Regions from separate parts of the Homo sapiens genome. Here region 2 is linked to region 1. A link means that fine-mapping ties the variant in region 1 to the expression of a gene that starts in the linked region. Tissue or cell type: lung. Region 1 holds a variant in brackets; the other region holds the start of a gene. All regions are shown on one strand. Distances are between the middles of the regions.

Region 1 (8,102 bases):
CCTCCCAAAGTGCTAGGATTACAGGTGTGAGCCACCACACCCAGCCAATACTATTTTATTTTGTTGCTCAAATTTTTTCACCTCTCCAATGACCTTTTACTATACCCTGTCGGGGTGCGTGTGTGCATTTCCTTACGTTCTGGCATTACAAGAAAGTAAGGAAATAGCTCCTCTTGTATATTTCCTGCCCCAATCCTAGAATCAGTCATTTCTTCAAGGACTCTTGAAGAAGTTATTAGAGAATAACTGTTATTGGAGAATGGTATTAGAAACCGAGATCTGGGCCAGGCACAGTGGCTCACACTTGCAATCCCAACACTTTGGGAGGCCTAGATGGGAGGACAGCCAGAGGCCAGGAGTTTGAGATCAGCTTGGTCAACAAAGGGAGACCCTCATCTCTAATAATAATAATAATAATAATAATAATAATAATATTAAACTAAGATCTGCGTGGTAAGTATGCTCATTGCTACTGGGGTGTCTTGCTTTTTGGACCTTCTCAACTGTCAGAGTAAGTGAATATATGTATATACTACAGTATACACACATATTTATAACTTTCTCTATGTAATCATCTGTATATATGGGTCAGTTTTTTTTTTTTTTGAGATGGGGTCTCGCTCTGTTGCCCAGGCTGGAGTGCAGTGGTGCAATCTCGGCTCAGTGCCAGCTCCGCCTCCCGGGTTCACGCCATTCTCCTGCCTCAGCCTCCCAAGTAGCTGGGACTACAGGTGCCCACCACCACGCCCGGCTAATTTTTTGTGTTTTTAGTAGAGACGGGGTTTCACCGTGTTAGCCAGGACGATCTCGATCTCCTGACCTCGTGATCCACCTGCCTCAGCCTCCAAAAGTGCTGGGATTACAGGTGTGAGCCACCGCGCCAGGCCAGGTCAGTTTTTTTTTTTTTAAGTCTACCTGTTACAGATATATATTATAATATTTACAGCTGAAATTATATGGCTAAGATTTGCTTTTAGAAACTTCAGCAATCCGGCTGGGAGTGGTGGCTCATGCCTGTAATCCCAGCACTTTGGGAGGCTGAGGCAGGCAGATCACGAGGTCAGGAGATCGAGACCATCCTCGCTAACACGGTGAAACCCCGTCTCTACTAAAAATATAAAAAATTAGACGGGCGTGGTGGCGGGCACCTGTAGTCCCAGCTACTCAGGAGGCTGAGGCAGGAGAATGGTGTGAACCCAGGAGGTGGAGCTTGCAGTGAGCCGAGATAGCGCCACTGCACTCCAGCCTGGGTGACAAAGCAAGACTCTGTCTCAAAAAAAAAAAAAACAAACAAAAAAAAAACAAACTTTAGCAATCTCTGGTTGTCTAGCGGTTAGGAATAAAAGTTGAAGAAAAAAAAAACCCAGCAAAACAACAAACTAGGACAATGAAATACAATTGACTAAGATAGTCATTGAAGCAGGATGCCAGGTACACTGGGGATTCACTCATTATACTGTTCTCTCTACTTGCATGTATGTTTGAAATATTCCGCTGGGCACAGTGACTCACGACTCTAATCCCAGTACTTTGGGAGGCCGAGGCAAGTGGATCACAAGTCAGGAGCTCAAGACCAGCCTGGCCAATATGGTGAAACCCCATCTTTACTAAAAATACAAAAATTAGCTGGGCATGGTGGCATGTGCCTGTAGTCCCAGCTACTCGGGAGGCTGAGGCAGAAGAATCGCTTGAACCGGGAGGCCGAGGTTGCAATGAGCTGAGATAGCACCACTGCACTCCAGCCTGGGTGACAGAGCAAGACTCAGTCTTAAAAAAAAAAAAAAAAAAAGAAAAAGAAATATTCCATAATACAAAATAATATGACTGGGTGCAGTGGCTCATGCCTGTAATCCCAACACTTTGGGAGGCCGAGGTGGGCAGATCACAAGGTCAGGAGTTCGAGACCAGCCTGGCCAACGTGATGAAACCCTGTCTCTGCTAAAAATACAAAAATTAGCTGGGCATGGTGGCATGAGCCTGTAATCCTAGCTACTCAGGAGGCTGAGTCAGGAGAATCGCTTGAGCCTGGGAGGCAGAGGTTGCAGTGAGCTGAGATCGTGCCACTGCACTCCAGCCTGGACAACAGAGCGAGACTCTGTCTCAATAAATAAATATGTACATACATACATACACATATAAAATAAGAAAATAGAGCCAGAAAACCCTCACTGACCAGGCTGCAGTTAAAGAGGGTCAAATAGAGAAAGACAGCCAGCCAGATACAAGGCATTAACACACATGCACATACAGGCACACACACAAGCATACATACATACACGCACATGCATACACACACATATACATACAGACGCACACACGCATACACACAGGCACACACACATACACACACACATACACACGTGTCCATACACACACAAAACTCTTCCACAGCCATCTTTAGGTGAAATTTTGAAGATGAAAGTTTTTCTTCCATGTTTGGACCCATCTGCCCTTTCAGAAACCGCAACCTTATTGCTCTACTGCTTCCTAAATCTGCTTTTGGAGGGAAATCTGATCATTTGAAATATTTCCTGTGACTGAAAGTCAAAGTGTGGTCTTCTTAGGAATTTACATTTCTGTGTCATCTTTGATGGGGCAAGAAGTTGCATTGTTTCTGGCTTAGGAATTTCAGGCAGTGGGTGTTTGACAGGGACAGCAACAGTCCCCAGCACATGTGGAATTACACATATAGGTAATGTTTCTACCAGTCCCAGAGGTTTCTCTAAGGTGAGGAACATAGTCTGTGGCCTGCCCCATCCCCCCATCCCTTGAGTGGAACTTGCCCACTCTCACCTCTTTTTTTTTTTTTTTTTTTTTTTTTTTTTTGAGACAAGATCTCGCTCTGTAACCCAGGCTGGAGTGCAGTGGCACCATCTCAGCTCACTGCAGCCTCCACCTCCCGGGCTCAAGTGATCCTCCCACTTCAGTGTCCCAAGTAGCTGGGACTACAGGCATGCGCCACCACATCTGGCTAATTTTTGTATTTTTGGTAGAGACAGGGTTTCACCGTGTTGGCCAGGCCGGTCTTGAACTCCTGACCTCAGGTGATCTTCCCGCCTCAGCCTCCCAAAGTGCTGTGATTATAGGTGGGAGCCATCACGCCTGGGCAACTCTTATCTCTTGAGACAGTAGTTGGGAAAGAACAGGTCTTTGGTTATATGACCAGTGAGACTGTCATGATCCTGCAGCTCACCATGGTTTCCTCTTGTTTCCCCCACTCTAGGGGTGGGGCAGAAGGCCTTAACTCTGAAAAAGCTGAAACAGCTGCTTCTTCAGAGTGCCGGAAGTTGGTAGCAGAGTGCCCTGCTTCTGTGGACAATGGTTTTTATCTCCAGGTTTGTCTTCATCTTCTCTGGATCCTTGGCCTCCTTGAACAGTTCTGGGTCATAAAAGGCTGAGAGTGGGCAGAGAGTTATTTTACTAGATTAGTGAGATGCTGTGCCCAACCTAGTCCCATCCATAATCAGGGGCTGCCGCTGGCCCTTCCTCTCACTCAGTCTTCCTCCACCCTTGCGGCCCCTTCTTACTCCTCTGGAATAGAGTATAGCTGCTTCTGGTTCTGTTCTAAGGACAGGAACTCCTGGGACAGCCACTCCCGCATTAGGTCAAAAACATTTCCTGT[T/G]GATTTTATTAGTTTCCTTCCAAACAATGCATTTATGGAAGAAGAAGAGCTTTTGCAGGCATGCATTTGCACAGGCAGCCAACCTCCTCCAGTCACACACAGACACACACACACCTCCACACCCACACGCACACACTTTCTTCCCATCCGCCCACAAAGCATCAGTCACATTTAGAATTTGCACAAATGCACACCCTCCCTCATACATCACAATGCACACCCTCTCATCCACCTACATGTCTCTTCCACAAAATCACACCTGCTCACATACCCTTAGAAGCACATTCCTGTACTGTGCCCAGAGAGAGAAAGGTGGGGGAGATAAGCAAGGAGAATGGGTTAGAAGGGCTCAGGAGGTCAAACCTCTGTAGGAGCTGAAAAGTCAGAAGACCAGGACCCCCCACTCCTCTCTGCCCTTTTTTTTTCTTTCTTTCTTTTTTTTTTGAGATGGAGTCATGCTCTGTCGCCCAGGCTGGAGTGCAATGGCGCAATCTCGGCTCACTGCAACCTCCGTCTCCCAGGTTCAAGTGGTTCTCCTGCCTCAGCCTCCTCAGTAAGTAGCTGGGATTACAGGCAGCCGCCACCACATCCAGCTAATTTTTGTATTTTTAGTAGAGATGAGGTTTCACCATGTTGGCCAGGCTGGTATCGAACTCCTGACCTCATGATCCGCCTGCCTAGGCCTCCCAAAGTGCTGGGATTACAGGTGTGAGTCACTGCTCCCGGCCTCCTCTCTGCCCCTGTAAGTAGAAATACTACGGCTGGGCAAGGTGGCTCATGCCTGTAATCCCAGCACTTTGGGAGGCGAAGGTTGCAGTGAGCCGAGATCACGCCATTGCACTCCAGCCTGGGTGACAAAGCGGGACTCCGTCTCAAAAAAAAAAAAAAAAAAAGAAATACTATGAATTGAGAGAGATTTAGAATTAGGGGTAGGGGAAGCAGGAACTCAGGGCCCCCTGTCCCACACAGAAAGTGTGCTGCCTCTGTGACAGTGATGTATCTCAGGCTGGTGGCTGAGGTGGGAAGTTTGTCAAGGCTGTAAGTGGCATCCATCACATGTCCGAGAAGCCCATTTTGACCAGTAGAAAAGGATGGCCTTTAGGGTGGGATTCCCTATCAGCTCAGGAAATGGTGCGGAGGGAATGAAGAGAGATAAGGAAGTAAAAGGCTGGGTTGGGCTCTGGGTCCAACATCCTCTAGAATGAATCTTACTAATGTCAGCTGGAATCAAGAGGAGGAGGCTCCCCTTCACTGGAAACTTGAAGTCCCCCTCAGAGAAAAGGCGGGAGAGAGGGCTTGGAAAAGTGACAAGTGCCCAAGAGCAGCCCAGGCAATTCTGCCTTCGGCCCCAGACTATTGTCTGCCTGCCCTGACTCAGCCCAAACTCAGAAACTGTGGATTCTGGAAAGTAACGAGACTTTTCCTTTGGGAAAGGGTCCTGAAGCTGACCCACAGTGCTCAAGAAAATTGGCAGAGAGGCCAGGCACAGTGGCTCACACCTGTAATCCCAGTATTTTGGGATGCCGAGGTGGGCGGATTACCTAAGGTCAGGAGTTTGAGACCAGCCTGGCCAACATGGTGAAACCCTGTCTGTACTAATAATACAAAAATGAGCCGAACGTGGTGGTGGGCACCTGTAATCCCAGCTACTCATGAGGCTGTGGCAGGAGAATCGCTTGAACCCATGAGGTGGAGGTTGCAGTCAGCCAAGATCGCACCATTGCACTCCAGCCTGGACGACAAGCGTGAAACTTCATCTAAAAAAAAAAAAGAAGAAGAAGAAGAAGAAAGAGAGGAAGAGGAAGAAGCAGAGAAGAATAGGAGGAGGAGGAGGGGAAGGGGAAGTGGAAGGGGAAGGGGAAGAGAGGGAGAGGAAGAAGAAGAAGAAAGAAGGAAGAAGAAGGAAGAAGGAAGAAGAACATAATTGCCAGAGAGCTCAGTGAAACAGAGACAGAGGAGACGGAAGTGAGCCACACACTCTGTGTCCTCGCCTCACCAGGAAACTACTAAAGTTCCTGGGGAAGCAAAGTAGAATTTCATAAGAACAAAATGGATGGAGAGGAGAAAACCTATGGTGGCTGTGAAGGCCCTGATGCCACGTATGTCAAATTGATATCATCTGATGGCCATGAATTTATTGTAAAAAGAGAACATGCATTAACATCAGGCACGATAAAAGCCATGTTGAGTGGCCCAGGCGTTTTATGGGTTTGGCTTTTAAATTTAGGTCTTTGGTCTTAAGTTAATTTTTGTTTATGCTGTGAGGTCAGTTTGCTGAGAACGAAACCAATGAGGTCAATTTTAGAGAGATACCTTCACATGTGCTATCGAAAGTATGCATGTATTTTACCTACAAGGTTCGCTACACTAACAGCTCCATCGAGATTCCTGAATTCCCAATTGCACCTGAAATTGTACTAGAACTGCTGATGGCTGCGAACTTCCTAGATTGTTAAATAAAATAAATTATAATAAACTGTTAACTCTTTTCAGTATGTAATACCTGTAGATCAGTTAGTAACTTTTTCATATATAGCATGTTGCCTGTATGCAGTTTAACTATATAAAGTTCATTGCAAAGCAGATTATCTTGTTTTTTTCATAGCAATCAAAGTTGAAATTTGTTTGCTACATCAACAAATTAAGAACATTTTCACAAACTGAGAAATAAACAAATATGCCAATTAAAAAAAAAAAAAGAAAGAAACAGAGACAGAGATATCTGGCCCCTGCCATCCATGTCTTGACAGTGCCTCATGAGTCTCTCCTCCTGCTGCCGCCTGGGGGCGCCCCCAGCTGGGTCTCAGGCTGCTGCCAGCACTGCTGTTGTTATCATTAGGGTAATTAATAAACAAGCACTGCTGGGGCCAAGTGGAAGAAGAGGCAGGCCCCTGCTGCTCAGGAGAATCCCTGAAAAGATCCAGTGAGCCTGCGGCAACCGGAGCTGAGTGGCTGGTCCCTCCTCTCTACCCAGGACCTCTGGAAGGGGTGTGGGGTGGGCTTCCCCCTGGAGGGAAGGGCAAGGGGAGGAGCACACTTGGTAGGCTTGGTTTGGAACCAGCTCTGCATGTGCCTAACAGGATGTCTGTGGGCAAGGCCACCCTCGTGATTACTGGTTGTGGGGCAGGCTCTGAAGCAATTATTCATTCATTTAACAGGCATCTGCCTATTTATTTATGGAAAGCCTACTGTGTGCAAGGTGGTCTACTAATAATAGCTAATGTTTGACTGGACAGTGTGACGACACAGCCAACTTTCACACCAGGTCCTGGGAAAAGGGGTAGAAGCAGGGGAAGCAACCAGGAAAAATGACAGCCCAAAAAGATACGGGCAATTAGGCTTTGGCCTGTGTAGTGTAGTGGTGGGGATATATATTAGGTAAAACCTGGGGATTACCAAGATCTTGGGAAACTCAGGACCCAAGTTGGAAAACATACGGCAATTGGGGCTGGAGAAAATGGGCATTTTTCAGGTGGGAGGGACTTGGAGATAAAGGCATGGCAATAGGACATGAATATGGGGATTTTGGGTGAATGGCTCAATGAAAGGGAGGCACGAAGGGATGCTAGCCGATCCTGTTGGGGGAGCCCCGGGTCACGGCAGTTTCGGGGAGCCAGATGGATGGGAGTGTCTAGGGGTTGAGGTGCTCTAAGTCCTGAGAGGGGGATGCTGGATTCTGGGATCAGAGTCCGAACAAGAGTTGGGGTGTGGTGGGGGCTGACAGCGGGGTTTTGAGGGAAGGCTCTGGAGGGCTGGGTTAGAAAAGATGCCGGAGCGGGTTTAGGGAAAGGAGGGGCGTGGCCGGGGAGCCCATCCTGGAGGCCAAGCCGGATCCTCAGGTTTGGCCAGGGGGCGGCTGGGGCCGGCGTGCCGGCGGGGCGCCGGCGGGGCCGCGGGGGTTTGCGGCGCTGGCTGGGATTCGCGCTCCGAGCCAGTCGCCGGGGCTCCGCGGGGGGGCGGTGCGAGCTCGGGCTGCGGGCGGGCCGGGAGGAGGCGGCGGCTCCGAGAAGAACATGAATCAGCGGCGGCGACGGCGGCGACGGCAGTGGAAGGAGCGCGGTGGCGCGGGAGCGGCCCCGGGGACCCCGCGCTGCTGACGGCGGCGACCGCGGCCGGAGGCGGGCGCGGGTCTCGGAGGCGGTCGCCTCAGCACCGCCCCACGGGCGGCCCCAGCCCCTCCCGCAGCCCTCCTCCCTCCCGCTCCCTTCCCGCCGCCTCCTCCCCGCCCTCCTCCCTCCTCGCTCGCGGGCCGGGCCCGGCATGGTGCGGCGTCGCCGCCGATGGCGCTGAGGCGGAGCATGGGGCGGCCGGGGCTCCCGCCGCTGCCGCTGCCGCCGCCACCGCGGCTCGGGCTGCTGCTGGCGGCTCTGGCTTCTCTGCTGCTCCCGGAGTCCGCCGCCGCAGGTAGGGGCTGGCACGGGAGGCGGCGGGAAGCGGGGGGCTGCGGAGGGGCGCGGCCGGGGGTCGGAGCCCGGGGCGG
Region 2 (8,102 bases), 41 kb before region 1:
GGCTGGAGTGCAGTGGCACGATCTTGGCTCACTGCAACCTCCGCCTCCCGGGTTCAAGCGATTTTCCTGTCTCAGCTTCCCGAGTAGCTGGGACTACAGGCATATGCCACCACGCCCGGCTAATTTTTGTATTTTTAGTACAGATGGGGGTTTCACCATATTGGCCAGGCTGGCCTCAAACTCCTGACCTCAAGATCCACCCGCCTCCGCCGCCCAAAGTGTTGAGATTACAGGCGTGAGCCACCGCGCCCCGCCTCTCTTAGCGATTTTCAAGAATACATCGTCATTAACTACAGTCACCATGTAGTACAGTAGATTCTGGAAGGTATTCCTCCTATTTAACTGCCATTTTGCATTGTTTTGACCAGCATCTCCCCAACCTTCCCCCAACTCCCAGGATAATTTCCATTGTTTTTTTTTTAATCTTTGAGACAGAATTTCCCTCTTGTCGCCCAGGCTGAAGTGCAATGGAGTGATCTCGGCTCACTGCAACCTCCGCCTCCCAGGTTCAAGCAATTCTCCTGCCTCAGCCTCCAGAGTAGCTGGGATTACAGGCTCCCGCCACCACGCCCGGCTAATTTTTGTATTTTTAGTACAGACAGGGTTTCACAGGTTGGCCAGACTGGTCTCGAACTGGTGACCTCAGGTGATCCACCTGCCTTGGCCTCCCAGAGTGCTAGAATTACAGGCGTGAGCCACCAGGCCCAGCTGATAATGTGCATTTCGAACAACTTAGGTTGTGGGGATATTACCTGTTCCTGGACCACACTTTGAGAACCACTGACTTAACCCAATCCTGCCTTTCTGCCCCTTTGCTCAGCTTGCTCACTCGGCCAGCTCTAAGTTCTGAAGACTGCTGCAGAACAAGGCAGGGACCTGCTGTGATGGGAAAGATCCTGGATTAAACGGAAATCTAGGGAGTCCTGTCTGCATGCTGATTTGCAGTGTATTTGACCTCCTTTTCTAAGAGCTCCTGCTTTTTGTTTGGAGCTGCTGAGCAGGGCTTAATGCCTCTCCCACACCTATCCTCCCGAGGGCTCCGGCCTGTACTTAGGTTCTAACATCACCTCACCCTCGGGCCTGCTCAGCTGCCCTCTCCAACGGTGCACCTACCCCTGTAGCCGCCGCCGCCTCCGCCCGCAGTGCAGGCCCCGCCGCCGCCCCCGAAGCCGCCGGCCGCGGCCCAGCCAAGGGTCGCCCAAGCCTCGGAGCAGCCCTGGCCGCCCTCCGCCCCCTCCTGCAGTGAGCGGCCGGCCTGCGGAGAGGGAGCCCGCGACGTCCAGCCGCCCCCACCACCTGCAGAGCGACAGCAGGAAGGTTGGCAGCCACACGGGGAGCACGCCCGCCTCTCCCCGCGGCCCGCGCCCTCACCTGCCGCCCCGCCTCTCCCGCCGCTCCCGGGCGCCTCCGAGCGGTTCTCCAGTTTCTCGGGGGAGGCCTGAGTCCGGCCTCGGTCCCGCGGCCTCAGGTAGGCCCGACCGCCGCCTCCGGCCGCCACCAGCAACGGTTCCAGCTCGCCAGCGCGCACCTGTGGGGCCAGCGGCGTGTTCCAGGAAGCGCCCTCCAGCTGTCCAGGGGCACTGCCACTGGGAGAGGGCTCCCGCCCAGGGGGCCTGGATAAGGGCAGGGGCCCCCAGCCCAGCCCAGGCCAGCCCAGCCCAGCGCAGGGATAGGGGGACCCCAAGGGACGGACGGAGAGCCGGTGCGTGAGCGCCCCTGGGGAGAGGATTGGGACCCCAACGCTGAGCGCCGAAGGGAGCACGTACCCGGAAAACGTAGGTGGCGCCCCCGCCACCCCCGCCACCTCCCGCCCAGCGCCGCGACCCCGGGACCCCTTCGCTCCCATCCATCGCCGCGTGCTCTTCAACGGCTCGAGACTCCCCGAGGCAGACGAGCTGGCTCTCCGGGCTACCCTGCGGGCAGCGGGGGAGGGAATCGGCGGGGCCCGGGAGCCTCCCCTCGCTGTGCTGGTGACCCGGCACCGAGGAAAGCACGCTCCCCCGGCCCCCAGGCAGCCCTCGCCCCCGGCGCCGGCGCCGCCCCATCCCCACTGGCTGCGCTCACTCCGGGACAGGCGTCCTCTCCCTGCTGCCCCACCAGGATGTACAGCGACTCCCCGAGACCGAGGGAGAAGATTGCTGAGACGAAGACGCCATGCGCCCGCGACAGGTGGTTCTTGGCGCCTTTGCCGCCCGCGGCTCCGTAGGCTGAGATCCTGCGGGGAACGGACGGTGAGTCCCCGGCCTTCGGTGCTCAGGCCGGCCGCTCCGGGCAGAAGTTGGCGACAGAGGAGGCTCCAGAATTATTTTTTATCTGAGGGACTTGGAGGCTGCAATCGACTCTGACGGGATGGGAAGGGTAGGTTTGCACACCGAAAAATCAGATATTACACTTATTTCAGGAGGGTTCGTGGAAATGTGGGGAGGCTCAAGCACCCCTTGGCGCCGCCCTGGTTGGGGGCCTTCCGCTCGGTGTAAGAGGTTCCGGGTAAGGGCTAACTCGGTGGCGACTACTGCCACCTTGAAGGGCACTCAAGGTGGACCTCCCCGCGGAATAGTCCAAGACGCAAGTCGGTGCGCACGTGGACTTCGTTACCCTGAGGGTGAAACCTCCAACTAGCAGGTCACTGTCCACCCTACCTCCGCCGTGCACTTACAGATACTGGCCAGGGCCCGGCACGCGCCACAGCTGCACGCCTCTCAGCTGCCCGGCGGCCCCCACGGTCACCACCACGCTGGTCCCCGCGTACGCCCCGTCACATTGTGTCTGTGTGGGCCCATGCCGGCCGCTGGCCCCGCAGGTAGAAAACAGCCAAGACCCCTCGGTGCCTGAGAGCAAGGAGCGAGGCAAGGGTCGTCGAGCCCCTGGCTGGGCCAGAGGGGTCTGGTATGGTGAGCGAAAGAGGAAGGAGGCGTCTAAAGCTCACCCGGAGAATTCAGCGGGGAGGCTGGCTCCAAGATACTAGGCGGGGCGCTGACTTTCGGGTCCCGGGGGCTGGGACTTGCCAGCGGCAGGGGCGAGGACCGCAGAAAAGTCTCCTGGGACCCCGGGCTAGAGCAGAGAATGGCGCCTGAAAGGTGTTGGGAGAAGGCGCAGGACGTTAAGGCGGGTGGAAATAGGATATGAAAGAAAGAGAGAACCCCGCAACAGCTGCCCTTGCGGTCGCGGCCACACCCGTCACCCGGCCCAGCCGCGCTCTCAGCCTGGAAGCCACTACCCGACTCCGGTCGCAGAAGCCCCGCGGGTGCGCGCTGATAGGTCTGCCAGTTTCTCTCCTCGAGCGCCTTTCCCAGTGAATAACTTAGGGGCCGCAATGAATTTGGTCCTGCAGCCTCCCCAATGCTTTCCTCAACTTAGATTGGTGGCCCCGCCCCAAGGCGGTGCTGAGACCCCAAAGAATGTTCCTCCTTCCCAAGCTGCGTGATCCAGACTCTGGGATTCGCACGCACTTGGCGCTTCTCGGCCCGCACTCCAGAAGCACGGACCGGAGAAATTTGGCTGTGAGAGTTCGAGGCCTCTGGAGGAACCACTGACACCTGGCCTGTTGACCGGCCACCCCCAAGCCTAGGAAAGTGCCTCAGGCTGGACGGTCCCCTGACCGCCAGATAGCACTTACCCGCGGCTCCGAACCACACCAGCAGCTGTCCCCAGCAGCCCATCCCTGTTGGGTCCACCCGGCAACAAAAGCCCTTGCGGTCGCGGCCACACCCCTGTCAACCTAAAGTTGACAGCTCATTTTGCCACGGCAGCCCTGGCCACCACTTACAGGGGTGTGCTGCCGCTGGCGAGACACTCCCCGGACCTAAAGCTGGTCTGGCCACGCCCACCTCAGACCCCAGGACGCCAGAGGAGGAAAGGGAGGGGCGTGTGGGCAGCGAGGTCCCTACGCTTCCGGGAGGAGCCTTAAGGAGTCCCCACCCAGGGGTTCTAGTTTCCAGCCGTCAGATGTGCCGCAGCCTGCTGGGAGCTCCGGTAGGTTTGAGGCCGGAGAGGAGGTGCCCCACGCTTAAAGTGGGAGCCACACCTCGGACACCAGGTGGGGGCTTCCAGGTTCCTGAGGACAGGAGCAGTGGAGTGTGCACTTCATTTGTGGCAGTGGTGGTGGTGGTGAGTGTGTGGCATGCGTCACCACACGTGGGAAGTACTCTAAACTGCTCCAAGTAAGGCCTCATTACCTGCCATTACTTGTGCCTTTTAGTGGTGCCTTTGTGACTGCAAGGCTGAACCTCATTGCTACTCCCAGAAACCTGGATCTCTGTGTTTGCCTCATATAATTCCGTTGCCTGTGTTACCCCTGTGCACAGCCTCTCACTGTGATGGGGTGAAAGACTGGACCAGACGTTAGAAGATCCGAGTGTTTTTAGTAGCACTGAAGGTCAATAGATGATAGGTAGGTAGACCGATCGATCGATTGATCTTGAGCACTAGTACTGGCACCTCTGGTCAATGGGTGATGTAGCACAGGCCACAACTGCCCTGAGAGTTTCCCCACCACCTGCAAAATCATATGAAGGGAAATTGCTCTGTAAGGTACCCTACAAATGTGGGAGCCACTCCCTTCAGGTAGTTTTGTGTCTTGAGTCTTCGATCATTTGCTTAAATGATCATTTGCCGGGTGCGGTGGTTCATGCCTGTAATCCTAGCACTTTGGGAGGCTGAGGCGGGCAGATCACCTGAGGTCAGGAGTTCGAGACTAGCTAGACCATCATGGCAAAATCCCGTCTCTACTAAAAATACAAAATCAGACACACGTGGTAGCGCACGCCTGTAATCCCAGCTACTCTGGAGGCTGAGGCAGGAGAATGGCTTGAACCTGGGAGGCAGAGGTTGCAGAGACGAGATCGCACCATTGCACTCCAGCCTGGGCAACAAGAGCAAAGCCCCATCTCAAAAAAAAAAAAAAAAAAAAAATCCTAACTTGAAAGTCTGAGACCTATGTTTAATACAAAATACTTCAAAAGAGAAGTTATAGTAGTTAGCTACTTGGTAAAGTCTGAGTATAATTCAAGGTGTAAACAGAACAGTGATTTTGTAAAAAGTCTGGTCTCAGCCAGGCGTGGTGGCTTACACCTGTAATCCCAGCACTTTGGGAGGCCAAGGGGACGGTGGGGGTGGGGTGGATCACAAGGTCAGGAGTTCAAGACCAGCCTGGCTAAGATGGTGAAACCCCGTCTCTACTAAAAATACAAAAATTAGCCGTGCGTGGTGGCAGGTGCCTGTAATCCCAGCTACTTGGGAGGCTGAGGCAGAGAATTGCTTGAACCTGGAAGGCAGAGGTTGCAGTGAGCCGAGATTGCACCACTACACTCCAGCCTGGGTGACAGAGTGAGACTCCATCTCAAAAAAAACAAAAAACAAAAAAACCCTGGTCTCTATGCCCTACTTAACACTAGATATCACACTATGAGATCACAGAATTTACCTTGCAAAGTCTCTTTAAGCCACTGCTCTTCAAATTGTGGTTGTGTGGTTTGTTCTGAACATCAGCATCAGTATTACCTGGGAACTTGTTAGAAATGCAGATTCTTGGGTTTCACCCCAGATGTACTGAATCAGCAGCTTCTGGTGGTAGGACCCAGTGATCTGTTTTAAAATATCCTCCAGATGATTTTTGTCACAAAGTTTGAGAATCATTGGTATTTGCTGATACAGTAGTTGCTTAATAAAACCTATTGGGGCCACATGCTGTGGCTCACACTTATAATCCCAGCACTTTAGGAGGCTGAGGTGGGCGGATTGCCTGAGCTTAGGAGTCTGAGACCACCCTGGGCAACATGGCAAAACACCGCTTCTAATAAAAATACAAAAAACTAGCCCGGTGTGGTGGTGCATGCCTGTAGCCCCTGCTACTCGGGAGGCTGAGGCATGAGAATCACTTGAGCCTCAGAAACGGAGGTTGCAGTGAGCCAAGATCATGCCACTACACTCTGGCTTGGGCTACAGAGTAAGACTCTGTCTCAAAAAAAAAAAAGAAAAAAAGGCTGGGCCCAGTGGCTCATGCCTGTAATACCAGCACTTTTGAAGGCTGAGGCGGGCGGATCATGAGGTCAGGAGTTCGAGTTCAAGACCAGCCTGGCCAACATGGCAAAACCCCATCTCTACTAAAAATACAAAAATTAGCCAGGCGTGGTGGCACGCGCCTGTAATCCCAGCTACTTGGGAGGCTGAGGCAGGAGAATGGCTTGAACTAGGGAGGGGGAGGTTGTGGTGAGCTGAGATTGCCCCACTGCACTCCAGCCTGGGCAACAGAGCAAGACTTCGTGTCAAAAAAAAAAAAAAAAAAACCCAAAAAAACCTATTGGATAATTCTGTGTTCAGCAGCTCCATTTATGAAGACTGGGTTCTCTCTACCTACTGACAGGGCTAGGCCTTGGCACACTGCTCTGACTCTGGTTACTTGCAAACACAATAAGTAATCCACACAGCAAAAGACAGTCTAAGAAAGCCTAAAGTTTAGAATTCAGACCAAAGAACAATGTAGAAACTACCAAAATAGGCCAAGTGTAGCGGCTCATGCCTGTAATCTTAGCACTTTGGGAGTCTGAGGTGGGTGGATTGCTTGAGCTCAGGAATTCAAGACCAACCTGGGCAACATGGTGAAACTCCGTCTCTACAAATACAAAAAATTAGCCAGGCGTGGTGGCACTTGCCTGTGGTCCCAGCCACTCAGGAGGCTGAGGTGGGAGAATGGCTTGAGCCCAGGAGGTCGAGGCTGCAGTGAGCTATGATCACGCCACTGCACTCCAGCCTGGGCAACAGAGCAAGACCCTGTCTCAGAAATAGATAGATAGATAGATAGATAGATAGATAGATAGATAGATAGACAGACCGACCGACCGACAGACAGACAGACATGGGGTCTCACTATGTTGGCTAGGCTGGAATTGAATTCCTGGAATCAAGTGATCATCCTGCCTCAGCCTCCCAAGTAGTTGGGACTACAGGTGTGTACCACTGTGCCTGGCAGGCCCCACATTCTTGTTGTCTCCAGATGTGGACAAAGTTTTTACCTCCCACTTATGATTCTTCCCCATCTCTCTCACAGCAGTCCTGCTCCTCACCTGGGATAACCCACCCCCAGATACTAACCCTGAACTAACATGGCTGAAATCAGTCCAGATCAAATTTCCAGGAGATAAAAAACATTTATTTTAATGCACAACTATAGCATTCATATGCCTCAGCCCAGGGCAGGGGTTGGGAGTTAGGTAAGAAGGGATGCATTTAGTTTGCCCTGTCCCCAAAGAGCGGGTAAATAGCTAAGCCACTCTTCACTCCCAGTACAGACCTTCAGAAGCCCCAGATATCAGGATGTAATGGTAGGGCTCACTGCTCTAAAACAGCTCAAACAACCTGCTCCCAGGAAGGCAAGCCTTCTGCTCCTTGGTCTCCTGCCTACCATTAGGACACAATGTTCTTCGTCTGGCCAGACATCTGTTGAAAGGCTGGATACAGGACAACGTACCCATCTTTCCATCTATATCAACTATCCTAGGTCTCTGATACCCCATTTTGGAGCACTGTTGAAGTCAGTCTCTGGAGGTAGTGCTGACGCAGAGGGGGCAACTGAGAATAGAGCTCAAAGCCCTCTGGGAGCGTGGAATTGGGAAGCTTATAGTGCAGGAGGTGCTGCCGGAGACCCTGCAGAAAGGAAAGAAAACTTATGAAGTGGGTAATGAGATCCTGTTGTGGTCTCTGTCCCCCAAGATCCTCTAATATCCCACCCTCCTAATGGCCCTGACCCTACCTCATCTGCCAGCAGCCATGTTTTCTGCAGCATACTCCTGCGGGCAGCTTTGACCTCATCCTAGAAGCAGAACAGGGAGAGGTGGCACTGAGCCGAGGGCTGGTACCCACCACTGGCCTTGCTTGACACTTACCTCTTCCCCAGCTGGCCCAGAGGCAGCTCAATTGCTAGCTCCCTTCCTTCCTCTGAAGATGGAGATGTAACTTACTGAGCTCTGTGGGTCCTGAGAGAAGATGAAGCTATTGACATGAGCCACAGCCACAGCATAGAGCACGGGGCACCAACGTGGGCGGAGCGCACCAGTAACCAGGGTCCGGAAGTAGAGCTGAAGGAGGGCCAGGTTGTCTTCAGGAGG

Direction of the effects. Alleles are on the strand shown, and positions count from the first base shown. SD is a standard deviation of normalised expression in the study named.
With allele G in place of T in region 1, the expression in lung of the gene that starts at base 3,777 in region 2 is lower (large effect, 0.86 SD a copy in GTEx).

What was found. PIP is the estimated chance that this variant, and not a neighbour inherited with it, causes the effect.
Region 2: LTK starts here. The variant in region 1 is fine-mapped to the expression of LTK in lung (TOPMed, PIP above 0.99). The same link has a PIP of 0.9 or more in left ventricle, subcutaneous fat and thyroid.

What each region holds. Positions count from the first base shown.
Region 1 is chr15:41,551,356-41,559,457 of GRCh38, forward strand. TYRO3 (TYRO3 protein tyrosine kinase) reads left to right here and starts at 7,857. Exons shown (of 19, transcript NM_006293.4): 1 at 7,857-8,026. The coding sequence starts at 7,903. It also overlaps the pseudogene ELOCP2. RefSeq lists silencers at 1,175-1,276, 7,506-7,595, 7,541-7,707, 7,646-7,785, 7,796-7,965 and an enhancer at 7,276-7,777. The variant T/G (reference allele first, on the strand shown) is at 3,623.
Region 2 is chr15:41,510,051-41,518,152 of GRCh38, forward strand. LTK (leukocyte receptor tyrosine kinase) reads right to left here and starts at 3,777. Exons shown (of 20, transcript NM_002344.6): 1 at 3,617-3,777; 2 at 2,927-3,070; 3 at 2,657-2,828; 4 at 2,065-2,215; 5 at 1,767-1,913; 6 at 1,372-1,528; 7 at 1,114-1,296. The coding sequence starts at 3,659. RPAP1 (RNA polymerase II associated protein 1) reads right to left here. Exons shown (of 25, transcript NM_015540.4): 23 at 7,956-8,102; 24 at 7,748-7,807; 25 at 7,126-7,641. The coding sequence ends at 7,492. RefSeq lists an enhancer at 2,609-3,356 and a silencer at 3,063-3,142.